4 linked regions of the Homo sapiens genome follow. The protein of the gene in region 2 interacts with the protein of the main gene of each other region in a pairwise test. Each region holds a gene or a part of one and is shown on either strand. Other genes may lie near its edges.

Region 1 (7,000 bases), on a different chromosome or scaffold from region 2:
TTAACAACAATAAAATACTACAAGAGTTAAAATAAACGTGAAGGAAGAAAATTACAGAGGGAAAAATGCTCAATCCAAAACATTTAGTAATAATAAAAAAGCAGCTAAATGAAAAAGGGAGAATTGTGATTACACTGTCAATGGCAGGATACGCTGTGGTGTTATAAGGAGATTGGGTCTGGTTTCTAATCAAGGACTGTAAAATGTTTAATAATTCTATTTGTATAAACTGAAACTAGCCCTTATTTTCTAGGCAACAAGTTGGCAAAAACCTTGGGTTTACCCATAAAGTGAATTTCTTAAGATATTTTTTAAGAACTCCTGTCCTGTTATATCCAGAGACATTATCAAATTTTAAAAGGCAAATAATTCAAAAAGAAACAGCTATTCAGTACATATAAAGGTAAAATACAGTTATCTTGAAAACACTTGTTTTAGAAAAGGAAATAAGCTAACTAGACACTTTACTATAAAAATTTTCCATATCTTAGGATGGCAGTTTAAGAAACAGTCAAATTTGAAAGTATCCATGTTTTAAGCGGGGAATGAGGAGTGTGGGGGAGGTGGTGCCCCGTTTCACTGCTGTAAGAAGCTTCAGCTTTGACCGCTACAGTGGTAGGTAGGCTCTTGTCACACAGTTTGGAAATACTTTACTTTAGAGAGATTCAGATCAAGCAAACAACTGTGTCTGCTCATTCTCCTCAACTTTGCTGTCCAAAGTTGGGGGCTGGGGGAGCACTTCTGTCGCTATTCAAATGGCAGTGTTTTGAGAGAATCCATTTTTTTATTTCTCCTCTATTCCTAAGCATTAGGAACTATGAGAGAAGGACATCTGTGCAGGTGCCCAACTCGTAACCTCATTAGTTATTTCCAGGGGGAAGTGCCAGCAATAGTTTACCACACTGGAAATACTGATGGCCAAGCCCAGCACGCCTCCCAGCAAGCCTTGTTTGTTTTTGAGGGCGAGTTTTGGCATAGATGGCACTCTCCTGTCTACAGCATACACCTCTGTGGAATCAGCACCCCAGAGGCCACTCCCCAGTGGCTTTCAGAGGAACAAGACTCTGGGGACTCCTGGCTATGAAGCTTAGTATGAAAAGCCTATTTCAAATATGCAATGGGATTTTCCCACCCCAATTTTAAAAAGTGAAATTATATTTTCTTCTGTAATATTTGTATCCTAAAGTCAAAGGCACTTCTAAGTTTAATTATCTGCAGCAAATGCTTTAAAATTAACAGTGCATATCATTTTAAAGTTGACCCTATGAAGTTAAAAGCAAACTCATGATTTCAAAACACAGTGATCTAAGGTTCCAAAGAAGGTGATCTAAAATCATAAATTCTGGCCCCAGAACACTGAACCTTCATCAGGTGAGTTCAATTAGAGACGACAGAAAGTAACCAGAAAAATACATGAATACTTCCTAAAACCTGCTGGAGGTTTTATCAGATGCTCCTAAAAATGACACGAAACACAAATTTCCTAACTTTCCTGTTGTCTGCTGCCTGGGGCTGCTAATGTGACTGACTATCAGATAGCCTTCAGGAGGTGGTAGGAAAAATGGATGGAGACAAAAATGTAGCAGACAACATGAACAGTTTGATCACGGTTACAAGAGCCAGACCTGTAATGACAGAAAGAGGACAGGAACAAAATTTACATCTCTCTTAAAATAAGTGTGAAAGAAGCATGATTCAACATGTTTTTAAATATTAGTGCAAATTCCAACTATTATTCTTACATATAAAGTTATTAGAGATTCAAACGCCTAGGTTAGCAATGTTAATTCAGAGGAAAAAAGTTGACAGCTTCCCTCAAAATGTTCAGAAAACACCCTATTTTAGTCTTCATTTGCTAATGTCTCAGTAGACAACCATATTTTGGCCCCACTTAAAAATTTGCTTAATGGTGTTCCTAAAATGCTTCGTCTGCACAGATTCCCTACAGGAGAAAATGGAAATGAGGAGGAGAGAAACTCCGGTGTCCCCGAGGTGTCGGTGTGGTGAGGGCCGCTGGCGTTGAAGTACATCCTGCTCTGGCCCAGCTCCCCATAGCAGGCCTCCAGGGGGCCACTGCGCTGTTGCCGCAGCATCCTGCTCAGTACGTCGACTTCATCAGCCAGGAGGGAGAGCTTGTGAAAGGCTGTGATGGAGCCACCCAGGCTGATCTGGGCCTCGGGAACCCAGCGGAAGTAGCACAGTTTCCACAGTTTTATGTGTGTTCCAGAGACACGTGGCAGAATAACACCGTGCAGGTTGGCGGGTTTGGAAAACCATTCTCTAAAATACTGCTCCGTATCACTGTTCTGGCTGTCGGTTTGCTGAGCTGGATCTGGCTTTGGTTTTAATATCAATGAATTTCTCCTTGGAAGTAATTCTTGGTCACTGATGATTCCATTCTTTAAGGCAGACGGCATTCCTCTTAGTGTGGAGCTGTAGCTTTTCTATACAGAAGAGATTTTATTATGTTCCGGGGATTCCCTTTTTAGAAAGATTGAAGGATGCAATGGCAAATATAAACTCAATACTATGAAAAATTAATGGAATTTCAGCCTCAAAGAACATTTTCCTCCCTTCCTTTGTGTCCTTATTCTAATCCTCCTCCCCTGGAATTACACTTTTTTATGTGTTGACTCTACCTAGGCTGTTACTATCAGCCTGAATGGGGGCGGGATGAGAGTACCTCCTATCCACTAATTTGCTTAAGGATAAGTTCTAAGACGGGCTAGAAAAAACACTAGACCTGGCCGATTCTATCAAGAACAATGGCAAACTGAACAGAGGCAGTCAGGAGGCCAAATGTCTGATTCTTTGTTCTGTACCTTTCAGTAGTCTGCAAATTTTCTACCAAAAAAAATCCCAAGAATTTATTTGGGAATTATTAAAAAGGCAAACAATGAATGTTATTAGGACAAGAATATAGCAGTCAGGAGGCCATGACTACATCACAGCCAGGCGGCATTCCCTGCCACAGTGGCGGCTTGAATCATCAAGAAATGGATAAATGGGGCTTTAGTAAATCAGGCTTGCAGGCTCAAAGCTGCAATCTGCCCACTCTCAGGTACTGAGACTTTGTGGGCCTCAGACACCAGGAAGAAAGCTGGGATACAGTCATTTGAGTTAAAAAGGGAATGACCCCTCAGAAACCCGCATTAGCAGTGTTACTCTTGGAAGTGCCTTTACTTTTAACGCTCTCTGTTCTGAAAAAGAGGTGTTTGGTTACGTGTGAGCCAACATCACGTTTTGTTAGCTGTGATTTACCTTTGTCCGTTTAAAAGACTTCACGGAGCCATTCTGTATACAAGGTGTGCTCTTTCCAATGTAGAAGGGGTTATGGAAAAGGGTGCGATCCTTTGCTGTAAACTGGAGAGACCAGTCCCAAACAGAGGGGAATTTTAAGCCCTTCTCATCACCCAATTGGATGTTTTTGCTTATAGCAAATTCCTGCAAAATAAATAAATAAATATTTGCAAAACTAAAGATTCTCTCATGAATGCCTTTTTTCAGATGAGCCACTCATCATTACACAGGTTAAATGTTCTGTACTGCAGCCCTCAAAACCCACCAGAGTGGCACTTTCACTTCAAGAGAGGAGACGCTCCTGGCCTTTGAGCTCAGAGGGCCCCACAGTCCCCATGAACAAGGAGTGTGCTTTTCAGGTGCCCTCTGCCTTAGGACCCCAAGGAAGCCGTGCCCTTTGGGCAATAAGAATGTTATTAAGAGAAGTTTCACTAACATGATACTAGAAAGTCTTAAACATGTTGAATTTATTTCTATAATTACAGTATTTTACTTTTATGAGCACACGGTCAGTACATTTAAGTAGTTACCTGTTGGTAAGTGGATTAACAAAATCTTTGGATGGAAATCACTGCCACCAATTTTATAACTTACTTCGTAAGTGGGGAGCTACACTTCACTGAGCCAGTGATCTCAAATCACAGACCACAGACTCAGGGTAGGAAGGAAGGGATCAACTCCCTGTGGTCCTAGCATGTGGCTAAAACCATGGAGACCATGTACACAGGAGACCCCTCCTTCACAGGAGTCCACCTCTAGCCCGGACTCTGGGCGGGTGCAGCCTAGTTATCTGGCTTCCCACCACAGTAAACTGAGGCAACACAAGGCTACAGGGTGACAGCCAACCACCGCATTGTGAGGAAGACATGGAGCTCCTCTGGAAGGCAGCCCAGACCATTTCTATGAAGCACAGTCACATTTAGCAATGTGGAGAAAGGACTCTCATCTCAGCTGATTGATGGCAGCAGGCTACCACAGCAGTGTATACACAACAGTTCGCTGGAGGAAATAACTCCAGACACAAAGTCGCTGGATGATGGGAAATGTCTGATTCTTTGTTCTGTACCTTTCAGTACTCTCCAAATTTTCTACCAAAAAAAAACCCCCAAGAATTTATTTGGAAATTATTAAAAAGGCAAACAATGAATGTTATTAGGACAAGAATATAGCAGTCAGGAGGCCATGACTACATCACAGCCAGGTGGCATTCCCTGGCACAGTGGCGGCTTGAATCATCAAGAAATGGCTAAGCTGTGTAACAGCACAGGGCATTTTGTAAAGTTTTACAAAATTTTCTATTTCAAATAAGTAAAAATTCATTAAGCACCAAATACACATACTCTTAACAGTTTTGGCCAGGCGCAGTGGTGACTCATGCCTGTAATCCCAGCACTTTGGGAGGCCGAAGGCAGGCGGATCACGAGGTCAGGAGTTCAAGACCAGCCTGGCCAATATGGTGAAACCCCGTCTCTACTAAAAATACAAAAATTAGCCAGGCATGGTGGTGTGCACCTGTAGTCCCAGCTACTCGGGAGGCTGTGGCAGGAGAATCACCTGAACCTGGAAGGCAGAGGTTGCAGTGAGCCGAGATCATGCCACTGTGCTCCAGCCTGGGTGATAGAGCAAGACTCTGTCTCAAAAAAAAAAAAAAAAAAATTTTAGTTACTTGACATTTCATCATGTACATGGATTAAAAACAATCCATTTGCTTCAAACACTGTTAAGAGCTGAAATCTAGTAAAACATGAACCCAAACGTGTTTTAATGGCCCTTCAGTAAGTATATAGAAAATGTCCTCTTGGCCAAGCACGGTGGCTCACGCCTGTAATCCCAGTACTTTGGGAAGCTGAGGTGGGCGGATTGCTTGAGTCCAGGAGTTCAAGACCAGACTGGGCAACATGGCGAAACCCTGACTCTACAAAAAAATACAAAAATTAGCTAGGCGTGGTGGCATGCGCCTGCAGTCCTAGCTACTCAGGTGGTTGAGGCGAGAGCAGTGCTTGGACCCAGGAGGCAGAGGTTGCAGTGAGCTGATATTGTACCACTGTACTCCAGCCTGGGTGACAGAGCCAAACTGTCTTAAAAAAAAAAAAAAAGATGTTCTCTTTTTTAAAAGGTAAAAATTAAAAATATTTATCCCAAGAGAGACCAGATTTTCTATAAACACTACCTGGCCACTAGCACCTAAGGTGGCCTCAGAATGGAAAAAAAAGGAAGAAATGCTTTGGGCTTTTGCCTGTGTGGAAGGGGCTGAGAACGGTTAAGAATCACGACCCTTAGACAATGACCAGTTCCTGCTAGGGAGGAAGGGAGAGGGGGATTCATGTTAGTATTTGTCAGAAAAGGCTTTTGAAAGAGCCAAATTAAAAAGAGCACTAGAACATGAACAGGGAAAGCAGAGGAAATACTTGTAGAAAGTATTTTTTACAGCTCCCTCAATACAATTCAGTAATGTTCATTCCTGGTGAGAAGTCTGTCCGCACACACAGCATCAGCCAAGCAGCAGAGGCAGTGGTGTCTGGGGGCTGGGAGTCCTCCACGCAGATACCCACCCATGCACTGCCCAGTCCCCAGACCCCAAAGTCTTTGTCCTCGCCTCACGCACCTTTTGCAGGCTCACACTGTGTGCGCACGGGGTAGTGACGGGAGACAATGGGGAAGAGCTGAAGGAGGCAAACAAGGCCAGGGGGAAAGCCTAGCTCGAGGCAGAGAGGGGCCCCAAGAATGATTATGGTGACGAAAAATAAAAACAAGCAACTGGGAGAGCATGTATTTTAGGAACAAATGAGCGTTCCATGCCTCAGGAGCCTCTAAGCCTGTATCACTGGTTCTCAGCACAGTATCTGGAAAGGTCAAACTTTCCTGGTGGGGTGGGCAGGGGACAGACTCTGGCTCTATCACCCAGGCTGGAGTGCAGTGGCACAGTCTCAGCTCACTGCAATCTCTGCCTCCTGGGCTTAAGCCATCCTCCCACCTCAGCCTCCCCAGTAGCTGGGACCACAGGTGCGCACCACCATGTCTGGCTAATTTTTGTATTTTTTGTAGAGACAGGCTGACGGTGTTGAGTTTCTTTGAGCCCTGGGTTCCCCAAAAGTGGCAATGCTGGACAATCTCTCCTGCCTTTTGTGTCCTGAGAACTGGCTCCTGTGGACTGAGACTGCCCTCCCTCCTGATTCCCCTGTCTTCTGACTATAAAATCCCAGGCCTTGTCCTTTTCTTTGGGATGCCCATTAATTAAGTTCTCCCTCCTGCAATAGCCTAAATAAAATCAGCTCCTTAACTGACCAGTGTGTTTTGTCTTTTATACCAACAAATCCAGAATAATTCATATGTCTTTAGGAAAATTTGCATAATGATTCACAGTTTACAAAATGTTTCACCTCATACAATGAGACTAAAGGCATAAGTGTTAGTTTGACAGATCCATTTTACAGGTTAGCAACCTGGACTCTCAGGCTGAAGCCTGAGTGGAACATGGGCCTAGCACTTTTCCCAGACCAGGGCCAGAACTCAGGTTTCCCGCTCCCTAGGTCACACTGCCTAGCCCAGGGCCTTACGGCTGAGGCTGAAGACCCCGGAGCTCACTATGAGGGCAATCCTCTTCCTAGAAAGGCTTCCTGAAGGTCCACAAGAGCTGCCCCTTTCTGTTTCTCTCAATGGTCTCCACGGCATTTGTCAGCTTCTGTTGTTGGTTCGAGGT
Region 2 (7,058 bases):
CCCTGGGAGGGAGAGGAGCAGCCTCTTGCTCATGGCCTTCCCCTGACCTTGGCCTAAACGAGACACCTGGGTCCCTCTTCCTCACTTCAAACCCCCAGAGAGAGAGAGAGAGAGGGCAGCGGGGGACCTTGTGGGGAGAGTAACACGAAAGACTCAGAATATTACAGCCAGAGGGTTGCCGGGAGGGATCCGGAAGCCATACCTCACGCTGCAATGAGTGGACGGGGCACAGGAGGAGAAGTGTCCTGTCCTGGGGGCCGGCGTGGGGCGGGTGGGAGAAGAGTAAGGCCTGGAAGCCGGGGCCGGTGGAGGCGGAGCAGCCGTGGGTGATGCTGTCTGTCCCACAGGTGTTCCTGGGGGAGGTGAACTCTGGCATCAGCAGTGCCCAGGTGGTGGTGAAGGAGCTGCAGGCTAGTGCCAGCGTGCAGGAGCAGATGCAGTTCCTGGAGGAGGTGCAGCCCTACAGGTGGGAGGCCACCGGGCACAAAGGCCTGTGCTGTGCGGCCCCCTCCTCTCCCTCCCCTGCTCGGCCCGACTCCCCCTCCCCACCTCCTCCCAAGTCAGGGGCCGCCTGTCCACTCCCGCAGGGCCCTGAAGCACAGCAACCTGCTCCAGTGCCTGGCCCAGTGCGCCGAGGTGACGCCCTACCTGCTGGTGATGGAGTTCTGCCCACTGGTGAGCTGCTGCCCGGGGGGATGCTGGGGTCTTTGCTGAGCCGGGGCCCTCCCTTGCCCTGCCAGTGTCTGGTGCCACCCCCTCCTTGGGGGCCTCACATCCTCCCTAAAGCCAAGACCCAGGGACCCTGCCCCCACCACCTTCCAGAGGAGGCGATGGGGAGACCTAGCCTCACCAGGGAGGGACTGTGGGGGCTGGGCACAGAACAGGCCTGGGCTGGGGCTCCCTGCACCCCTGGGGAGCTGCCAGCTGCTTGGTCACCTGCTTGTGTGCCCTGTGGTTCAGGAGGAGGCATCCTGGGCCAACTGGGGGGGGGCACTGGCCCACTTGGGCTCCACGGCCTCACTCAGGCTTGCTTTTGCCATGGGGGGCTGGGCCTGGCCACTTCCCCAGGCTGCCTGGAGTTCTGGGCCTGCCCATCAACGCCCCCCGCCCCGGGGACCTGTCCCCCCCTCCCCCTGAGACCTGCCCATCAACGCCCCCCTGCCCCGGGGACCCGTCTCCCCCTCCCCCGAGACCTGCCCCCCACCCCCTTCCACATATGCAGCTCCTGCACTGAGCCGAGGCTGTCTGTGGCTGGGCTGGATCCCCTGCTGGCTTCCCTCGGGACAGGGGCCCTCACACACTGGCGTCTGGACTCCTGACGTTGACCGTCCCGGGGCTGGGCTTTCGGCAGGTCAGGGGCTGCCGGCCAACCCTCGACCACCAGCCCCAGACTCCATCAAGCAGATCCACTTGGGCCCTGTGTTTCTCTCTCTACCACAGGCCAAGGGACTCCTGCTGCCCGGGGCTGGCTGAGGGGCAGTGGAGAGGAAGCCTTCAGTCCAGCCCAGCCCTGGGGGACACGGCCCCCCTCCAGGAACTGCTGGGTGCTGGCCACTGTGCAGGGCACGAGGCTGCTCTGGGCAGCTGCTGTCCCTCAGCTGTGGGTAGGGGTGGAGGAGTTGGGGAGGTAGGTGGGGACCTCCCAGGGTGGCCAGCCCCCAGCCTGCTGGTGACTGCGCCACACCCCCTTTCTGCAGGGGGACCTCAAGGGCTACCTGCGGAGCTGCCGGGTGGCGGAGTCCATGGCTCCCGACCCCCGGACCCTGCAGCGCATGGCCTGTGAGGTGGCCTGTGGCGTCCTGCACCTTCATCGCAACAATTTCGTGCACAGGTGAGGGCGGGCGCGGGCCAGCGGCCGGGAAGCCCTAGGCCAGGCCCCTCCCCTGAAGGAAGGGCATAGGGCGGGTCCTGCCTCAGGGGGCTTGCGAGGACCGGCCAGGTTCATCTCATGCAGCATCAGACAACCACTATGCAGAGGGATTTTATGACGTTTTTGAAAAATTGGGAAGACAATGGTTTGACACCCACTTTGCAGGTTTAGACGAAGAGATGCGTACTGTCAAGCTGGCCTGTTCTCTGTCCCCGAGGCAGTCAGCCAGCACCCTGCAGCCCCGCGCCAACCCCACACTCTGCTAAGCCCTCGCTTTGGGGCTTGAGGGAGACAGACCCTGCTTCGAAGGACCCTGGAGGGAGGGTTCTGTCCTGCTTGGGCCAGGATGCCCAGCCCCTGGGGACCCCGGGGGGACATGCTGGAAGAAGTGGCGAAGGACACGTGGCCCCGTCAGCCCCAGACGCCGCACGGCTGTCCTCTCCAACAATATCCTGGTGCTGAGTGATGACTCAGGCGACTCCAGCATCAGTGATTTTGTTGAAGAGGGCAGCTGCCAGCCTCCCGACCTGCCTGCCGGGCCCCAGCTGCCCTGCCCCCAACCCCAACCCACCCCACTCCACCCCCTAGGCCCAGGACACATGGCCCTGTAGCGATCCCCTGGCACGCAGACATGGGTTTTATGTGGGGAGGGACAGGCTGGGTTGGCCTCTGTCCCCACCCTGAGTCCTGAGCACAGAAGTAATACGGCAGCTGTGGTAATATCTACCCAGTACCCTGTGCCTCCTCACACCCACGTGACCAGCCAGGCAGGGTTCAAAGCCAGCAGCCAAGGCAGGCTGGGTTGGAGGTAGTGCCAGGCGTAACCTGCATTCTTTCCAGACCCTACCCAACCCTGGGGCCAGTGGTGGCTCAAGTGAGAGTGAGCTCCAGCTCTGAGTGGGCATGGCAGGGCTGGACCCTAAAACTGGACTCCGGCAGCCGGCAGGACCCCTGGGACACTCCAGGCCTCAGTTTCCCCATCAATTCCCACCTCCTGGGGAGCCGAGAGTGATAGTGTAGTAGAGCTAGGAGGAGAGGGTCCTGGAGAAGCGTGGACCGGTCCGGGTGGGTTCCGGCAGGTTCTCACCCTCTCTAGGCCCCATTCTCCTCTGCACTGTAACATTTGAGGCCCACGCACACAGTCCCTCCCCAGGTCTCAGGGTTGGGCACAGAGTAGGGCCCTGGGCAGGGATGGGGGGTGGCAGTGTCTCCAACGCCCCTTCCAGCCTGGACTGTGAGCCATCCAAGTGTTGGCAAAGGACCCTGTGCTGGATGCCCCCGCCCGGCACACCCCACTGACCCTCCCCCTGCCCCCACCCGGCACACCCTGCTCACCCTGCTCACCCTGCCCCTGCCCCTGCCCCTGCCTGCAGCGACCTGGCCCTGCGGAACTGCCTGCTCACGGCTGACCTGACGGTGAAGATTGGTGACTATGGCCTGGCTCACTGCAAGTACAGAGTGAGTGGGGTGGGGTGGGCTGGGCTGGGCATGAGGGGCAGGGCCTGCGCCGGCAGGGGTGACCCGTCCCTGTGCCAACAGGAGGACTACTTCGTGACTGCCGACCAGCTGTGGGTGCCTCTGCGCTGGATCGCGCCAGAGCTGGTGGACGAGGTGCATAGCAACCTGCTCGTCGTGGACCAGACCAAGAGCGGGAATGTGTGGTGAGTGCGGCCCTGGTGGCACCGTGAGGGGCCGAGGCCGAGTGCCACCTGCCCACCCATGTCAAATCATGGCCATGAGTAGTGAGGTCAGGGGGCTGCCGGAGCCACCTGTAGTGGCCACACGCCAGCAGCCCAAGTGGCTGGTTGGGTGGCGACCCCACACCGGGGGAGATACCACCCTGACAGGGTGCCCCAGGGACCCCATGGTGGGGTCAAGGCATACGTACAGGGCCAACGGCCCGTCTTCAGCATGCCGGGGGGTCTGTCCTGAGACGGGGGCCTTGGTGAGTACCTGTCCCTGGGGAGAGGGTCTGGGTGGGGTGTTGGCTGCCTTCACGGGAGCGTAGGTCGGGCCGTGCCAGGCAGAGGGGCTGACGGTGGTGCTGGGATCTCCCACGGCCGCAGCCTGGAAGCCCCTATCCTGAGTGCCTAGCCCGGAGCGTTCATTCACACCTGGTGTAGACTCGGAAGGGGCAGGGCCGAGCCGCCAGGGGAGTGGTCCGCCCCGGGGTGGGCGCCCCTCCCTGCCTCACCTCTGCTGCTTCCCCAACCGCCCCCACCACTCCCGGGCTTTGGTCTGGCCGCCTTCTGCTTCTGGGGAACTCTCAGATCCCACGGGCCAGGCCCCCTCCCTGAGCTTTTGGGGCCTCCCCTAAGCCACTTGACTGCCCCATCATGGACACTGTCCCCTCCTCACCTCTCCACCAAGGTGCCCCTTCCTGGCCTGCCCACCCACTGCACGCTGGCTGGGGTCTCCAGTCACAGGGCTCTGGCCAAGGTCATGGTGACGTCTTGCCAAATCACCTCTGTCTCACTCTGCAGCCTCTTGGGACAGCCAGGGACCAAAGTGGCTGGGTGAAGCCACAGCCCACGGGGAAGGAGACCCCAGTTACCCTACCCGCCTGCACGCTCTGTGCACCCCTGCCTGTTACCCAGCCCTGCCCATGCTGGCCTGAGGCGTCCCCTCTCTCCCCTTCCTTCCCCCTCCCTCCCCCTCCCTCAGCCCCCTGCTGGTGCGGGCCCTACTCCGCTTTGGGCTCCACGCCCGCCCTCCAGCTCCCCCAGGGCAGCTCCCACACCGGGCAGTGTCTGGTCTTCAGTGCATCAGTGAATGAATGAATGAGTGGACAAGCAGATGGATTCGGCCAGCCCGGCCTTTATGTGCAGGCTCCACAGGTGCTGGGCTTGGGCCTGGCAGGGTGCACATTGCCTGCTGAAAGGACGCGCTGTCCTCAGGGAGGGGCGGCTGGTATGGTACCAGGCCCCGGTCCTGAGGCACTGGCGTGATGGCGGGAGCTGCCCCATTCGGCGCCCCGGGGATCCTGCGCGGTCCTTGCTGTGGCAGGCTGTGCCCAGCCCTGGCTCACGGCTGTCGCCCCACAGGTCCCTGGGCGTGACCATCTGGGAGCTCTTTGAGCTGGGCACGCAGCCCTATCCCCAGCACTCGGACCAGCAGGTGCTGGCGTACACGGTCCGGGAGCAGCAGCTCAAGCTGCCCAAGCCCCAGCTGCAGCTGACCCTGTCGGACCGCTGGTGAGGGCCCCACTGCCCTGTCCCGGACAGCCAGGCCGAGATGGGGTATCCTGATCCCCAGGCAGAGGCGGCTCACCCTGACCCCCTGGCGTTCCAGCCCTGCCTGGTCTCCCCTCCCCTCTGGTAGGGCCTCCACCCGCCACCTCTGCACCCCTGTGTACAGGGAGGGAAGGCTTAAGGATAGTGCCCAGCCCACCTCCTGCTCCCACGCTGCTGGGCTTGCCTTGGCAGATTTGGGGTGTCAATTAAGTGGGAGATACCCTTAATGCCCCCAAGACACTGGGAGTTAGGGGAACCCCCATCCCTGCTCCAGGGACGCGTTCCTGGCCAGCGTTGCCTCTGACGTGGCCCCCGGGGGACCTCCTCGCAGGTACGAGGTGATGCAGTTCTGCTGGCTGCAGCCCGAGCAGCGGCCCACAGCCGAGGAGGTGCACCTGCTGCTGTCCTACCTGTGTGCCAAGGGCGCCACCGAAGCAGAGGAGGAGTTTGAACGGCGCTGGCGCTCTCTGCGGCCCGGCGGGGGCGGCGTGGGGCCCGGGCCCGGTGCGGCGGGGCCCATGCTGGGCGGCGTGGTGGAGCTCGCCGCTGCCTCGTCCTTCCCGCTGCTGGAGCAGTTCGCGGGCGACGGCTTCCACGCGGACGGCGACGACGTGCTGACGGTGACCGAGACCAGCCGAGGCCTCAATTTTGAGTACAAGTGGGAGGCGGGCCGCGGCGCGGAGGCCTTCCCGGCCACGCTGAGCCCTGGCCGCACCGCACGCCTGCAGGAGCTGTGCGCCCCCGACGGCGCGCCCCCGGGCGTGGTTCCGGTGCTCAGCGCGCACAGCCCGTCGCTGGGCAGCGAGTACTTCATCCGCCTAGAGGAGGCCGCACCCGCCGCCGGCCACGACCCTGACTGCGCCGGCTGCGCCCCCAGTCCACCTGCCACCGCGGACCAGGACGACGACTCTGACGGCAGCACCGCCGCCTCGCTGGCCATGGAGCCGCTGCTGGGCCACGGGCCACCCGTCGACGTCCCCTGGGGCCGCGGCGACCACTACCCTCGCAGAAGCTTGGCGCGGGACCCGCTCTGCCCCTCACGCTCTCCCTCGCCCTCGGCGGGGCCCCTGAGTCTGGCGGAGGGAGGAGCGGAGGATGCAGACTGGGGCGTGGCCGCCTTCTGTCCTGCCTTCTTCGAGGACCCACTGGGCACGTCCCCTTTGGGGAGCTCAGGGGCGCCCCCGCTGCCGCTGACTGGCGAGGATGAGCTAGAGGAGGTGGGAGCGCGGAGGGCCGCCCAGCGCGGGCACTGGCGCTCCAACGTGTCAGCCAACAACAACAGCGGCAGCCGCTGTCCAGAGTCCTGGGACCCCGTCTCTGCGGGCGGCCACGCTGAGGGCTGCCCCAGTCCAAAGCAGACCCCACGGGCCTCCCCCGAGCCGGGGTACCCTGGAGAGCCTCTGCTTGGGCTCCAGGCAGCCTCTGCCCAGGAGCCAGGCTGCTGCCCCGGCCTCCCTCATCTATGCTCTGCCCAGGGCCTGGCACCTGCTCCCTGCCTGGTTACACCCTCCTGGACAGAGACAGCCAGTAGTGGGGGTGACCACCCGCAGGCAGAGCCCAAGCTTGCCACGGAGGCTGAGGGCACTACCGGACCCCGCCTGCCCCTTCCTTCCGTCCCCTCCCCATCCCAGGAGGGAGCCCCACTTCCCTCGGAGGAGGCCAGTGCCCCCGACGCCCCTGATGCCCTGCCTGACTCTCCCACGCCTGCTACTGGTGGCGAGGTGTCTGCCATCAAGCTGGCTTCTGCCCTGAATGGCAGCAGCAGCTCTCCCGAGGTGGAGGCACCCAGCAGTGAGGATGAGGACACGGCCGAGGCCACCTCAGGCATCTTCACCGACACGTCCAGCGACGGCCTGCAGGCCAGGAGGCCGGATGTGGTGCCAGCCTTCCGCTCTCTGCAGAAGCAGGTGGGGACCCCCGACTCCCTGGACTCCCTGGACATCCCGTCCTCAGCC
Region 3 (6,981 bases), on a different chromosome or scaffold from region 2:
AGGGAGGAGTTTGTAGAATCTGGAGTGGAGGAAACTTCTGTGTCACCAAACACAGAAACCATCAAAGAAAATCTTTCACTTCCAAAATTAGTCTATAGAAAAAAAAAAAGAAAATCTTAACCCAAATAAGAGACTGAGGCAAGAGCTTCAATCAATCGAGGTTTACTGAGCCAGAGTTGGAGCGTGCCCAGGAAAGCAACACAAGTCAAAGAAACGTCTGTGGCCTGTGCTCTCCCAAGAAGTTTTCAGGAGGCTCAATATTTGTACATTTCTTTAAAGGGGAGAAGACAGTGAGGCAAATGGTTATGTTTTTGTGAGACTCTTAATTAGTGTCCCGTAAATCTAAGCTATATGGAAGATAGGGTGAACACTGGAAGAACAGGGAGTAACAGAAGAGCCAATTATGCAGAGGTCTCAGGTTAGGTGGAGGAATGATTGATCTCATCTTATCCTTGTTCTGCACCTGGGCAGATAAACTTGTAATTGACATTGTCAGTGTGAAATTTAACAGACTTTGGTTTTAGGAGTTAGGTTTAGGTTGCAGACCTAAAGTTGCAGTTGACATGTCCTTGTTTTATAGGAGGATATACATCCTGAAAGTTTTAGGGACTGGCAAAGAATTTACTGCTGAGCAATTTGTGATTGCAGTCACCTGGAGATTCATGAGGCTTTTTGCCTTTTTGTGGGGATCTGGTTAATGCATAATATTTTGACACAAGGTTGCAAGGTAACAGGTATCCATTTGGGAAAAGAATGACAGTTTTGGAGAACATTAGTTCTGCAGCATAGAATGAAGTGTTGCCGGAATAAAATTAAAAAAAAAAAAAAAAGGCTGGGTGTGGTGGCTCATGCCTGTAATCCTAGCACGCCTGTAATCCCAGCACGCCTGTAATCCTAGCACGCCTGTAATCCCAGCACGCCTGTAATCCCAGCACTTTGGGAGGCCGAGGCGGGTGGATCACCTGAGGTCTGGAGTTCGAGACCAGCCTGATCAATATGGCGAAACCCCATCTCTACTAAAAATACAAAAATTAGCTGGGCATGGTGGCGGGTGCCTGTAATCCCAGCTACTGGGGAGGCTGAGGCAGGAGAATTGCTTGAACTCGGGAGGCGGAGGTTGCAGTGAGCCGGGATTGTGCCAGTGCACTCTAGCCTGGGTGACAGAGCAAGACTCCATCTCAAAAAAAAAAAAAAAAAAAAAAAAAAAAAAAGGAATGCCAGTGTTGTGTGGCTCAGTCTCCAAGCTTAACTCTCCCTTTAGCATAACAAATTTGGGGGTCCTGAAATTTTTATTTTCCTTTATGAAAAGATCAATAATCCATTTGCATAAAAAATAAAGTCTATATGGAAAAAGCCACCATCACAGCCAAAACACAAATAACAAACTGTAACTTGTTACAAACAGCATACTTGTAACTCATTTCAAAATAAAGAGCTGATTTCTCTAATATATAAAGAGCTCTCATAAGTCAATAAGAAAAAGACCAATGGTAGCCAGGCGTGGTGGCACATGCCTGTAATCTCAGCTACTCAGGAGGCTGAGGCAGGAGAATCACTTAAGCCCAGGAGGCAGAGGTCATGGGGAGCCGAGATCACACCATTGCACTCCAGCCTGGGCAACAAGAGCGAAACTCTGTATCAAAAAAAAAAAAAAGAAAAAGAAAAAGACAAATGGCCCAGTAGAAAGTGTGGCAAAGGATACAAACAGACCATTCACAGAAAAAGATAGATAAATAACATCTCTCAGGAAAGTACCTCCCAGTCACCCTTTGTTGGAAAGTTGTTGAAGGATGCACTTCAGCAAAATGAGGGAGTAAACCAAGAGACATAGGCTTAAGATCCAGGCAAGAGTGAGGCGCTTAGGAGCCCAGGAAGCCAGAAGAGCCTGGTAGCACTGAAGGAACACTCAGGCCACCTTGGAACAGAGAGGATGGGATTGCCATGTGGTTCCACATGGCTCTGAAAATAGACAATGGCTAAGCTGTGCAACAGACTGCCTATGACATTTGGTTGCCCAGAGCTTCTGTGAAAATACTTCAGGACAAGGCTTTCCCCCACCCAGGGGTGGGTTGGGGAATAGAGTGTATGCACTTTGTTTTGTCCAATTTTAGACTTTAAAATCCTCTGAGGCATCAACTGGTGAGGGTGAGGAAGTGGCCCCATAGACTGAATTGGGCCTGCCCCACCCTGGTACCTTTCTGTTCTGTCACAGTGACAATTCACAGCTCAGAGGTCCTTTGGGAAACTTTCTCTGACATCGCCCCTATCCTCTTGCCAGCTGGATGAAGCAGCATCCACCAGAACTGCTACCATCACTGCAGGGGGCTTGGTGGGCAGAGGCCTGGCTTGTCTCCATTAGCACTGCGTTCCTGTGCCCAGTGTGGCCCCAGCAGACACTGTGGGTTCAGTCAATCAGCCCCCAGGCTGGTCTGGGACTGAGTCATCGGAGGGAGTGGGTGTTGGGCACAGGTCCCTGCCCTAAGAACCTTCCTTCTTGGGCCCGAGGAACTCCCACTGGGGCAGGACTAGCTGCTGGGAGGAAGTAGGGCTTACTGAGCGTCTACCTGGGCTAGGGAGTGGAGGTGAAGGTGGACTCCTCATACAGCTCATATGCAGGCACTGGGCTGTGGAGCCTTAGCCGCTTTTAATTGGCAAGCCCTGGCTTCCTGGAGGAGGAAAGGGGAAGAGAAGTGCCCTGGGGGCGAGGATTGAGTCAGCTGCATTGTCATAATGGAAATAGTACAGCCCTGGGTGTCCAAGACTTCCCCTCCATGGGCCTCAGAATCGTCCATATGATGTAACACTCTTTTTTTTGAGACTGAGTCTCGCTCTGTTGCCCTGGCTGGAGTGCAGTGGCTCCATCTCGGCTCACTGCAACTTCTGCCTCCTGGGTTCAACCGATTCTTGTGCCCCAGCCTTCTGAGTAACTGGGATTACAGGCGCACACCACCACGCTTGGCTAATTTTTAGTACAGACGGGGTTTCACCATGTTGGCCAGGCTGGTCTCGAACTCCTGACCTCAAGTGATCCGCCCGCCTCGGCCTCCCAAAGCACTGGGATTACAGGCGTGAGCCACTGCCTCCGGCCAAAGTAACACTTTTGCACAGGGAGTTGGACTTGAGTGACAAATGGGTGACAAAGTGCTTTGTTAACTCGCAGATGTGAAGGGGACACTGCGGCTGACCGCCTGGTGACAGCTAGCCAGTGGTTGAGAGACCGCAAGATGGTTCCTCGTCTTTCACTTCCCTCCGTCCCAGGTCTGAACTCGGACCAGCTGGAGCCTTTGGGGGACCACGGATTCCCCTTTACACTCACACAGATTTCTCTTGTCCGTCACTCACTCACAGTCCAGTAAGGATCCTGCTGTCTATTCCGCGAAGACATCTTGAATGCAGGGACAGCCATTTGGAAGACTGTCCTCGAGGGTGGCAGCAGCCTCTCAGGACGGGGAAAGCCAAGGTGCCCACTAAGCCCGTCTGGGGTGGAGGGTGGCAGGCCGGGGTGGAGAGGATTGGAGGCCGCCTGAAGGAACCTGTGCTCGGTGGCATTTACTCAATGTGGGGGTCTGACACCTCCCAGCTCATTTTGTCCCCATCTTCCCCTTGCGTCAGGTCCCCACCCAGCAGGAGGAGGTCCGAGGATCTGCGCGACGCTGGCCCCGCGGAGTGTGGGGGACTTTTCCTCTCAACCACCAGTGCCCCGCAAGCGTGGGTGAACAGTCCTCCCTGGCTACTGTGGGACGCTGGGCAGGCGACTTCGCCTCTCTAGGCCTCGGTTTTCCTGCTTGTCAAATGGGGCTGATGCCGGCGTGGGCTTCTTCAGGCGGTCGCGAGCGTTGACCCCTGGAGTCAGCGAACCAGCCGCGCACGCACTCCCGGGCGGAGGTCGGGGCTGGGGGGCGACGCCTCCCGTCTGCGCGCCCCCGGCCCCGCCTCCCGCCGGCGCACCCCTCCCTCGGCTCCGCCCGCGGCCCGCTTCTTCCTCCCGCGGGCGGCCCAGCCCTAGCGCCCCGCGCTCCGCGGGCAGCCCCCTGCCGCCGCGCCATGTCCGCCGGCTGGTTCCGGCGCCGCTTCCTGCCTGGGGAGCCGCTCCCCGCGCCGCGGCCGCCTGGGCCGCATGCCAGCCCCGTGCCCTACCGACGGCCCCGCTTCCTTCGCGGCTCCAGCTCCAGCCCCGGGGCGGCCGACGCCTCGCGCCGCCCAGACTCCCGGCCCGTGCGCAGCCCCGCACGAGGACGCACGCTACCCTGGAATGCAGGCTACGCCGAGTGAGTGCCCCTCCCCGACCCCCAGCTCAGGCCCGGGCCTGAACCCGCTTCGGGTCCTGCGCCCGCCTAGAAAGCGGGAGGAGCTGAGTGACAGTCCCCACCCACCTGTGGACAGCCCCTTCTTGCCCTCACCTCCGAATCCTGACAACTTCCCGGTCATCCCGACCCAGCGTTTTCCTTGGGATTCCGACCTCCCCCTCAGAGAAGACAGGAGGTCGGGAAGGACCTGCAGCCCAGGGGCTTCCAAGATGAGGCCCAGAGACTCGGTAGAGTTCCAGCATTCGGGGCTTTGGAGATTTCCCCTCGCCCTCTACCCCCACCATCTCACCCTGGGTATGACCTGCGCTGTATGGGACAGGGCTTTGGGCTGCGACAGGACAGGGGCAGGAATGGCAACCTACCCTTACCGTCTAGCCCTGGGTCACCAGGTAGGCTCCAGAGGAGCTGGGCCCTGACTTTTACCTTAGCCATGAGGCCAGTGAAGTTAGGAAGCTTACATCGTGGTTGTCTAAGTGTGTGTTAGGGACAGCACTGGGGAGCTGTTGCCCCAGAGGGAGGGGTCTTCTCCCTGTGCTGGCTTGGGTCCCTGTGCCCATGGGGACATAGGTGTGTCCCTGGAGGGTCGCTTACCATTTCCCGGCCTCAGGATTATCAATGCAGAGAAATCTGAATTCAATGAGGATCAAGCCGCCTGTGGGAAGCTGTGCATCCGGAGATGTGAGTTTGGGGCTGAAGAAGAGTGGCTGACCCTGTGCCCAGAGGAGGTGAGTGCAGTCTGAGTTCTTGGCTGGAATCCCTCCGACAGGCTGGGGCCACGACCTGCAGGCTGAGGTTCTTACCCTGCTGCCCCAGGTCCTAGTTAGGTTGCGTCAGGGGACAAGTGGGGAAGTCAGGCAGAGGCTGACACTGAGCCCTTCCTGTGCAGTTCCTGACAGGCCATTACTGGGCACTGTTCGATGGGCACGGCGGTCCTGCAGCAGCCATCTTGGCTGCCAACACCCTGCACTCCTGCTTGCGCCGGCAGCTGGAGGCCGTGGTGGAAGGCTTGGTGGCCACTCAGCCCCCCATGCACCTCAATGGCCGCTGCATCTGCCCCAGTGACCCTCAGTTTGTGGAGGAAAAGGGCATCAGGGCAGAAGACTTGGTGATCGGGGCATTGGAGAGTGCCTTTCAGGAATGTGTGAGTGTGTGGCTTTTGGCTGGGGAAGAAGTGGAGATTTTGCCCCGGGGATCTCAGGAAATGGCATCTCTGTATACCCATGGTCATCACACCAGATCCTTGGATTGGGAGGATGAGATTGGGTTGGTTGGATTGTTACTAACAGCCATCACTATCAGCATAACCCCTCTCATTTATCCAGCACCTACTGTGTGCTAACTGCTTTTACCTGCATCATCTAATTGAATACCCTATTGGTCCTTGGTGCAGGGGCTGGTTTCTCTTCCTATTTTGAGTAGCACTTCCCTTGTCTAGATCTCCTGACTGCAGGGATCTTGGAGGTATGGCTGGACTTTGGGCTGGGACTGTCAGGCCTGCTGGTAGAAGTGAACTGTAGGGTAGGGTGGGGATTGAGAGACAAAGTAGTATGGTGGCAGAACAGGCAGCAGCTAAGGTGGCCTCGGTTTTCCCCAGGATGAGGTGATCGGGCGGGAGCTGGAGGCCTCAGGCCAGATGGGCGGCTGCACAGCCCTGGTGGCTGTGTCCCTGCAGGGAAAGCTGTACATGGCCAATGCTGGGGATAGCAGGTGAGTCACCCCTTGGAGGGTGGGCAAGGGTGGGATGGGGAGGGCATAAGCAGCAATGGGGACAAGCAAAGGTGGCTGGAAGTGGAGGGATAGTAGGAAGGATTGACTGGCTGAATTGTGTGTGTACTTGTTATGTGTCGAGTGTGGACAGTGGCTGCCGGGGAGGGCAGGGACCTCAAAGGCCCCGCTAAAGGGCTAAGCCTTCACCCTTGCAGGTCTTAGGTAGTCATGGAGGGCTTTAAGGGATCATCATGGACAGAGCTGGATCCTGGTGGTTGGAGGAGGGACTGGTAGGAGGGTGGCCATGGGTGAGGGTGGAGGCCTCCTCCTAGACCTCTCCCTTCTCTCCTCAATCCAGGGCCATCTTGGTGCGGAGAGATGAGATACGGCCACTGAGCTTCGAGTTCACCCCAGAGACTGAGCGGCAGCGGATCCAGCAGCTGGTAGGTGCCCTTGGCAGCATGGAGGCTGTGAAGCTCCAACTCCTGGGTCCAGGGCCATAAGAAGGAGTATGACCTGAGCGCAGCCTCCCCACCCCAGGCCTTTGTCTATCCTGAGCTTCTGGCTGGTGAGTTCACCCGACTGGAGTTCCCTCGGCGGCTGAAGGGGGATGACTTGGGACAGAAGGTTTTGTTCAGGGATCACCACATGAGTGGCTGGTGAGTGGGGATGGGGGACAGGTAGGAAGGGAGACCCCTGGGATCCAGGCCCAGCCGTATGGCCTGGGGCCCCCCTCCACCTTGGCAGGGTGGCACTGTGAGGGTGTGACAGCTGGGCCCTGAGTTGGGGAAAGATGAGATGGGGCACAGGGCTTGGGTTGATGCTGGCTCTGCTCCTGGTAGGAGCTACAAACGTGTGGAGAAATCGGATCTCAAGTACCCACTGATCCATGGACAGGGTAGGCAGGTCAGTGCCTGGTCCTCCTCAACCCCAAGAATCCCTCTTCATTGTCCCCTGCAGAGGTGGG
Region 4 (7,783 bases), on a different chromosome or scaffold from region 2:
TGTAGGGGGAGAGCTTCAGAATTCTCTGTTTTTAAGGCCTGCTTCTCCTTCTGGCTGAAGTCTACTAGCCATGTCTCTGGAGCTTGAGGCGGGGACAACAGCCCACTTCTCTGAGTGATCCCCCTACTTTGCAAGGTGAGCAGGAATGATAGCTTCTGGTCTTCTTGGCTTGCCTAAGTGTGGAATCTTTGACCTACAGATGAGGTGGAGCAGGGGCACTTGGGAGAAGCCAGCCAGGGTGAGGAGGAAATCCATATGGGAGAGCAGCCCAGCAGTGGCGAAGCCTGAGCCAGATAACACCTGTGTGGGAGAGTGACCTGGCCCAGGTTATTAGAACATTCCCAGGCATCAGAGCTTGGGTCAGGTTGGGAGGGCTCCATGTGGCAGGGTGACCCTACATGGAATATTGGAACATAGGCAGGATGAGGAGAGCATCTACCCAGGTGGGTGGCAGCAGCAGCTTGGCATAGGTGTTAAAGCCCAGATGGGATGAGAGAGGCATCCACATGGAGGAGGGAGCAGAGGTAGTGATGGGAGACTGGTTACATGTAGGGGGCTTGGTCAATTAGGTAAATATATTAAAGATTACTGTGCCCAGGCTTCTCACAGAGTTATAATTATAGGTACAGTTGTGGAAAGGGTGGAAATTAGAGGAACTCTGTGGTGTTGGCTTGGAATTGGTAGCATCAGGGTAAACTCTTGGTTTTCCATATGTATATATGCCTACATATGGGAATAAATATAGATGTAAAGTGTGATAATGTATGTGCCTGTGCATAATATCCATATTCTTTAGCACTGTCCACTGAGAGGGCCTGGCAGCAGTAACACTCTAATGGCAATGAGCATACCTAACACACAGACATTGGTTTCTAGATACCGTTCTTTACTAATAAATGCAAGGGCTTCCGAGTCTAATCATGAGGAAACTGCATGCCCAAATTGAGAGAGATTGCTACAAAATAACTGGCCTATACTCTTCAAAAGTGTCAAGGTCATCAAAGTCAAGGAAAGACTGAGGAACTTGTTCAAGTGTGAAATAGGTGAAAGAAACAGGACAACTAAATACAACATGTCGTTTTACTGTAAGGAACATTTTTGGAGTAATCAGTGAAGCTTGAATGAGGTCTGAGGAATAGAGGGCAAGTAGTAATATCTCAACCATAATTTCCTGATTTGGGGTAATTTTCAAGAATATCTTTGTGGGAAATATACACTAAATTATTTGGCGTAATGGGGCAGCATTTCTGCAAGTTACTCTAAAAAATTCAAGGGAAAATATTCTTTTTTTCTTTTTCTTTTTCTTTTTTTTTTTTTTTGAGACAGTCCCGCTCTGTCACCCAGACTAGAGTGCAGTGGTGCAATCTCAGCTCACTGCAACCTCTGCCTTCCAGGTGCAAGCAATTCTCCTGCCTCAGCCTTCCAAGTAGCTGGTACTACAGGCATGCGCCACTACACCCAGCCCATTTTTGTATTTTTAGTAGAGACTGGGTTTCACCATGTTGGCCAGGTGGGTTTCTAACTACTGACCTCAGGTGATCTGCCCTCCTCAGCCTCCCAAAGTGCTGGGATTACAGGCATGAGCCACCATGCCCAGCCAAGGAAAAATATTATTTGTAACTTTTGTAACTTTTCTGTAAGTTTGACATTGATTCAAAGTAAAAATATAAAATATTCTCAAAAATATATGGGCCAGGCATGGTGGCAGGCACCTGTCATATTGGCTACCAGAGAGGCTGAGGCAGGAAGATTGTTTGAGCCTAGGAATTCAAGGCTGCAGTGAGCTATGATCACGTCACTGCTCTCTAGCCTGTGTGACAGAGCAAGGTGCTGTCTTTAAAAAAAAATTAAAAATTAAAACTAAAGTGTTCGATTGTGTTGCATGCTGCTGCACAGTCAAATAGAAACTCTAAAAAGTCCACCTCAAAACAGATCATCGGAGGCCTTAGCAAGAGTGGTTTGATTTGAGAGTGGAGGCAGAGGCCAGAGCTGAGTAGGCTAAGGATGAGACCTGTGACACGTGGAGATGGCAGGTGTAGTCACCTTGGTTTGGAGGTTTAGCTATGAAGGGGAGAGAAGAAGGGCCCTCAGAAGAAGGGAAATTATAGTGAAAGATCTGGAAACAATTACATATACCTAGGAATGTTTGAAAAACAGAAATAGGGAAAGTCTTGGAAAAGTTCTGTCTTCGGATATTTGAAAATCTTTCAAGACAAAGAGAAGCTTTATTCTTTATTTTCAGTGGGAAGAACCAGAACCGATGTTTATAGAATGGATTTTAACTCAACACTAGAGAACATTTGAAGCCCAGCGTGTTGGCAGGCATCTGTAGTCCCAGCTACTCAAGAGGCTGAGGCAGGAGGAGCCCTCGAGCCCAAAAATTTGAGTGCAGCCTAAGCAACAAAGTGAGATTCCCATCTCTAAAGAAGGAAGGAAAGAAAACATTTGAGCTGTCTAACAGTGGAATAGTCAGTTCCCTTGTGAAAAGTGAGCCTCTTGTCACAAAAAGTAGAGAACACGAGGCTGGAAATTCAGCTGTACAGCAAATTCCTGGAAGTAACTCCTCCGTGGACTTAAGAATGCGGATAGGTGGGCCTCCCACGCCCACCAGGCACCCACTGCATTCTCAGCCTATTGTTCTATGACTTTAGGAAGCAATGATCCCTTTCTGAAATCTTGAGTATAGAAGGAAATTACTAGTTCTTGGTGTTCTAGATCTCACTTTTCAGTGTTTTACCTGCCCACTTATAGAAATTAAGGAAGAAAAGACTCAGTACTCACTGGTACATTTTAGTGGGTTTCTTTGTTGTGTTTATTGTAACTGATTTCATATTTGTCATGATCAGTATCTCATTTTGTTCCTTAAATATTATTCTAAATTTGGTTCTCGTGTCCAGAGGTGGGTACATTTCTTTTCATCTGCCTCATCAATGCAAGGTATATTCACAGCACCTCATTGTTGGGAACACTGAGCAAGCATGCAGAAAGGGCTGCTTTCACCTTGCAGAATCCTGTTTGCGTTAGGCTTGACTTCCTTAGACATTGACACAGGGTCACTGACTGTACGGTAACTGGGGTAAGCTCAGTCATTTTGTGTTTATTTGAGGTCAACCCAGGGCTCAAGATTTCACCACAGAGATTATTCTTGAGGTGATCTATAAACCATCCCTTCCTTAGCTTGGTCCAAATAAGTCCTACCCCTACCCCTTATCTAATGAAATTAGTTGTCATTTTTAGTGTAGTTGAAAGCAGTTACTTTTGACTTTTCTCTGTAGATGTCCTCAGATGCTGGTTCTCCAGGCCATGGACTTGTTTCTGCAGAGCTCACCACTCTTGTTTCTCAAGAGCTAAGTTAACATTCTGGAGTGCCACATACTCAGAAGCACAGACTTGCCCAGAAATCTTCTTAGACTCCCTCTTACACAGATAGCAAATACACAGCTCCTTAGTTTGAGCATTTAGGGCCTCCTGCCAGTAAGTTCATGTTCTTGTCATGCAGACCTCTGTGCAACTGCTGTTTCTGTGTTGCCCTTAGGGTCCTGAGGGCCTTGCCTAGAATAATCCTCATATAATTCCTCCGACAGGAAAGCTGTGCTTTCTTCCATGGCTGCATTCTAAATAACAAAGGCATGATACTATACATAGAGTAGGAATTTGGACACCAAATCGGGATTCTGTGTCCCTGTCTTATTCGACAAAAGTGCACATTACTGGGGAGATGGGGGCGGCATTTTAAAAGGAGCTTGGTATAGCATTAGTAATCGTTAAAAAAAAAAAAATAGAAAATAGCCTTATCTGTAGCAGTACAGTAGTTTGTTTCTGTGCACACACATCTGAAATACCACTTGTGCAGAGAGCTAGCGAGCAAGCGAGGGCGCAGCCTGACATTAACAAGGGAGGAGGCGGACAATGAGTACATTAGTGGTTGTTGCACTTTCTGTTTTCTTTATATCCTTTATCTTCAAGTTGCAACCTCCCCCTCATCTAGTTCCTTTAAAAATGTGATATTTAGTGATCTTTCTTTGTATGCCTCTGCCAAGACATTATTGAAGCTTCTTTTTTCCCTCACTGCAACAAAAGGCAGAGAATGGTGTTTTGAGTTTTTGAGAGGCATGGCTACTATAACTGTCCAACAGAGGCATAACTAAGAATTGGGTTTTTATATTCTGAAAATGAACACATGAAGTTAAATGTCTTCTGATAATATATCACCTCTAAAAATGTCTTTATTTGTTCTATCCAAGTATTTCTTTAATAGTTTTACCAAGAAAAAATAGAAGTGGTTTTGGTTATGAAAAATTGGATGATATTTTAATAATCTTGTAAGGTGTCCAGCATATCCCACTTTATTACAATTAACTTTTTTCTGCACTATTCAAACGAGGAGTAGAAAGGTAATTTTTTTCAAAATATCCAGAGACAGGTTGTGAACAGAATAACAGAATTTAAGCCTTTTAACATGTATGTAAAAGGCAGTTTTTGCATCAGGAAGACAGTTTTCTAAATTCACTACAGTATTTTGGGGAGTAATTCTTTGGTTAGATATTTTAAGTGCATTTGAGAAACAAAATTTAGTAATCAATATATTTAAAATTTATATTATTCTTCCCTATATTTGAACAATTTGTCCAAAATGCAATCTGTTCATATTGGATTTTGCCTGTTCAGATCTAAGTGGGAATCAGTAGTTTCTTTGTTTGTCGCCATGGAAACCAGTCAGCCAATCTGAATGGCTCTTAGATCATACAGAACGATGCAATGCTCCCTGCTCTCAGTGAAAGTTCCTCACTGAGTGAGTGGGGCTGACTCTTCCTGCCTCCGGCTCTTGCCTCCCAGTGCCATGCAGGTGCAGGATGCAACCAGGCGGCCCTCAGCCGTGCGCTTCCTCAGCTCCTTTCTCCAGGGCCGCCGGCACTCCACCTCAGACCCAGTACTGCGGCTGCAGCAGGCCCGGCGGGGCTCTGGCTTGGGCTCCGGCTCTGCCACGAAGCTGCTGTCCTCGTCCTCTCTCCAGGTGATGGTGGCTGTTTCCTCAGTCAGCCATGCAGAGGGAAACCCAACTTTCCCCGAAAGAAAAAGTAAAGGTCTCTTTCTTCTTATAGATTGCCATACCTATGTATATAAGTTTGAGGAATGGGAATCAGCTGTGTTGTGTTTATACCTTTTTAAATATTGGCAGTTTATTCTATATTATACTTTTTGCTGTCTGTTATGCTATTTTAGTGAATATATAAGAGGATATAAAATGATCAAATGTTTTGTGTTTTTTTATTAAAAATATAGGTTTGAACAAAACTCATTCTCTTGTAAAACATCTGCTTCTACAGTTTCTTCCTCCTAATTGCCAGTATGTGTGGAGATTATTATATGTGAAAGCTTTTTTACATTAAGAGATATATGTCACTTTGACAGGGAAACAGTTTTGTTTTCTTGACAAGATGAAGGTGATTTTGCACTGGCTTGTCATCTACCATCCTGAGATAAAATGGAAGCTATTTCCCATGTTACAATTTCATTTGGAGAGTGGAATTTTGAATTTTCCTTTCCTTATATGTTCTAGGAAATTTAGAACGTCCAACACCAAAGTACACAAAAGTAGGGGAGCGTTTACGGCATGTCATTCCTGGACACATGGCATGTTCCATGGCGTGTGGCGGTAGAGCTTGCAAGTATGAGAACCCAGCCCGCTGGAGTGAGCAGGAGCAAGCCATTAAGGGGGTTTACTCATCCTGGTGAGTGATCCTGTTGGTCTTTCATAGCTCTGTTGGATACAGGAAGGACACTCTGTGTGAGCCAGGAGCCCTGAAGTGTGGGAGGAGCAGTGTGGGACTTTGAAGTCAGGACCTCACTTTGCCAGTCAGTTCTGGCTTTGCCTTAGCTGTGTGATCTTGGCCTATTGACCCTCAGTTTCTTTATCTGTAAGGTGGAAATAATAAAACCAAAACCATAGGGTTTTTTAATTAAGTGAAATGATATATATAAAGTGTATTGAAGAAATGGATAATTAGATAGCTCTTAAATTTCAGAAATGTTTAGAAATAATAAAACTTCAGCTATAAATTTGAGAAAATTATGATGTACATGTGTAATTTTTCAGTTTCATGTAGGTAAGCTTTAGCTTTTATGTTATTCCTATATTCTATATGAAAGGTCACATTTTCATACAAATACCCTTCAGTCTACCCTAATAAAAGTGGTACAAGTTGTCAGCTCAGTAGAAAACATAAGATATTTGCTTTTTTTATGGTGTATAAGTGAAATTAATATTGTTCTTTAATCATACTGCTTTTTATTAAACAGTAAACTAGTCAAATACACCTTTTTGATGTAGTAACATCTGAAAAATTCTGATAAATCACATTTGAAGCATACTTAGAGGAATTCACTGTTTAATTCTAGTAGTGAATTATTTTATACATCAAGAACCCATTTTTCAATTAGATATTTGTCAACTGGCTTATCCAGCTTACAACCTGTACTTTTTCATATTGGATTTGCTCAGTACATCTGTAGTGATATAGTCTGGGGTCCACTGTCATTATTGTTCACCACAGGTCATATTCTGGTCCATCACTATCATACTAATAGTATGAAGAAGGAAACATTCATAGTCAGACAAGAAAATTTCTAATAATGTAGCTTAGGTCATTTGCATATTTTTGCTTTATTGCTGACTAAATCATGTGAGTCTTTTTCACCTCTGCTGCTTTCACGTTACATCCCCCTTCATCTTACACTAATTATCACTGGGGGTCCAAACTTTTGGGTCCCATGTTAAACCATATGCCTTCTTTCAGAGGGAAAGGTGTCATTTTGGATCCTGCCCTGACAGTCTCTGTTATTCCCCTGAGATTCATGTGACCCACGACTTCCAACAGACTTACCTTATATATCTCATCAGGCCACTGATGAGAAATTTGAACAGAACAGAGTGAAGCCAGAGCCCAGAGGCCTGACAAGAGTAATAGTCATTTATTGGGCGTCTGCCCACTCATTCATTCAGTAAATATCCATTTGGCTGTAGGCCAGTCAGTGTGCTAGATGCTTTCATACTATTATCTTTTATCTTCATAAAACTCTTGTGAGCTGTTAATGCCATTTTATCAATGAAAGAATTGAGTTCCAGAGAGACCAAGTAATTTGCTACCAAGCTAGAAAGTAGAAGAGCCAGCATTTGAAACCAAGCCCAACTGACTCTGGAGCCCATATTTGTCACCAAATTACAGTAACTCAGTATTTATTCATAACTGCATGTCAGGATTTGTGCCAAAGACTTTACATCCACATCATATTGAATTCTCACACCAACCCTGTGAGACAGGCATTATTATCCCCATTTAACACCTTGTAACTAAGATTCAGATAGTTGAATAACAAAATATCTCCCAGTTGGCCCTCCTCATGTAAGTCACTACCCATTGAGTAACAATCCAGACTGTTACCTTCACCACCAGCTGAGTTTTCTCCATCATGTCCACTAAAATCTCTTGAGAGTTCTTGAAAATACTTTGCTGGAATCCACAAATAATTTATGTCTTGGAATTTTTTCCAGGGATTTAAGAAGCTAGAGTTTCTTAGAGCTCTAATCATCCAAAATTGAAGCCAGATTTGTATAAGAATATTCTTACACGGGTGCACCAAAATCTCAAAATTCACCACTAAATAACTCATCTATGTAACCTGAAATAATCTGTACCCCAAAAACTATTGAAATTTTAAAAATTAACCTAAAGAGAAAAAAAGCAAAGTATCTAACAGTGCCTTTACTAGACTACCTTTTGTA

The links.
Region 1: the proteins of AATK (region 2) and MTMR10 interact in a two-hybrid assay, tested with the Homo sapiens proteins (one study listed by BioGRID and IntAct).
Region 3: the proteins of AATK (region 2) and PPM1M interact in a two-hybrid assay, tested with the Homo sapiens proteins (one study listed by BioGRID and IntAct).
Region 4: the proteins of AATK (region 2) and PTPDC1 interact in a two-hybrid assay, tested with the Homo sapiens proteins (one study listed by BioGRID and IntAct).

What each region holds. Positions count from the first base shown.
Region 1 is NC_000015.10:30,939,629-30,946,628, forward strand, and holds part of MTMR10 (myotubularin-related protein 10), read right to left. Parts: exon of another isoform or gene 3,748-7,000; intron 3,481-3,747; exon of another isoform or gene 3,445-3,480; coding exon 3,262-3,444; exon of another isoform or gene 2,445-3,261; coding exon 1,842-2,444; 3' UTR 1-1,841.
Region 2 is NC_000017.11:81,121,200-81,128,257, reverse strand, and holds part of AATK (serine/threonine-protein kinase LMTK1), read left to right. Parts: intron 1-347; coding exon 348-466; intron 467-587; coding exon 588-675; intron 676-1,697; coding exon 1,698-1,831; intron 1,832-2,302; exon of another isoform or gene 2,303-2,381; intron 2,382-2,884; exon of another isoform or gene 2,885-2,982; intron 2,983-3,243; coding exon 3,244-3,328; intron 3,329-3,409; coding exon 3,410-3,531; intron 3,532-4,914; coding exon 4,915-5,064; intron 5,065-5,434; coding exon 5,435-7,058. UniProt on the Homo sapiens protein: May be involved in neuronal differentiation.
Region 3 is NC_000003.12:52,241,781-52,248,761, forward strand, and holds the start of PPM1M (protein phosphatase 1M), read left to right. Parts: upstream 1-3,978; 5' UTR 3,979-4,044; coding exon 4,045-4,268; intron 4,269-4,386; exon of another isoform or gene 4,387-4,534; intron 4,535-4,914; coding exon 4,915-5,032; intron 5,033-5,193; coding exon 5,194-5,448; intron 5,449-5,901; coding exon 5,902-6,014; intron 6,015-6,372; coding exon 6,373-6,457; intron 6,458-6,540; exon of another isoform or gene 6,541-6,554; coding exon 6,555-6,673; intron 6,674-6,856; coding exon 6,857-6,920; intron 6,921-6,981.
Region 4 is NC_000009.12:94,079,691-94,087,473, forward strand, and holds the start of PTPDC1 (protein tyrosine phosphatase domain-containing protein 1), read left to right. Parts: upstream 1-4,773; 5' UTR 4,774-4,840; coding exon 4,841-5,084; intron 5,085-5,560; coding exon 5,561-5,732; intron 5,733-7,783. UniProt on the Homo sapiens protein: May play roles in cilia formation and/or maintenance.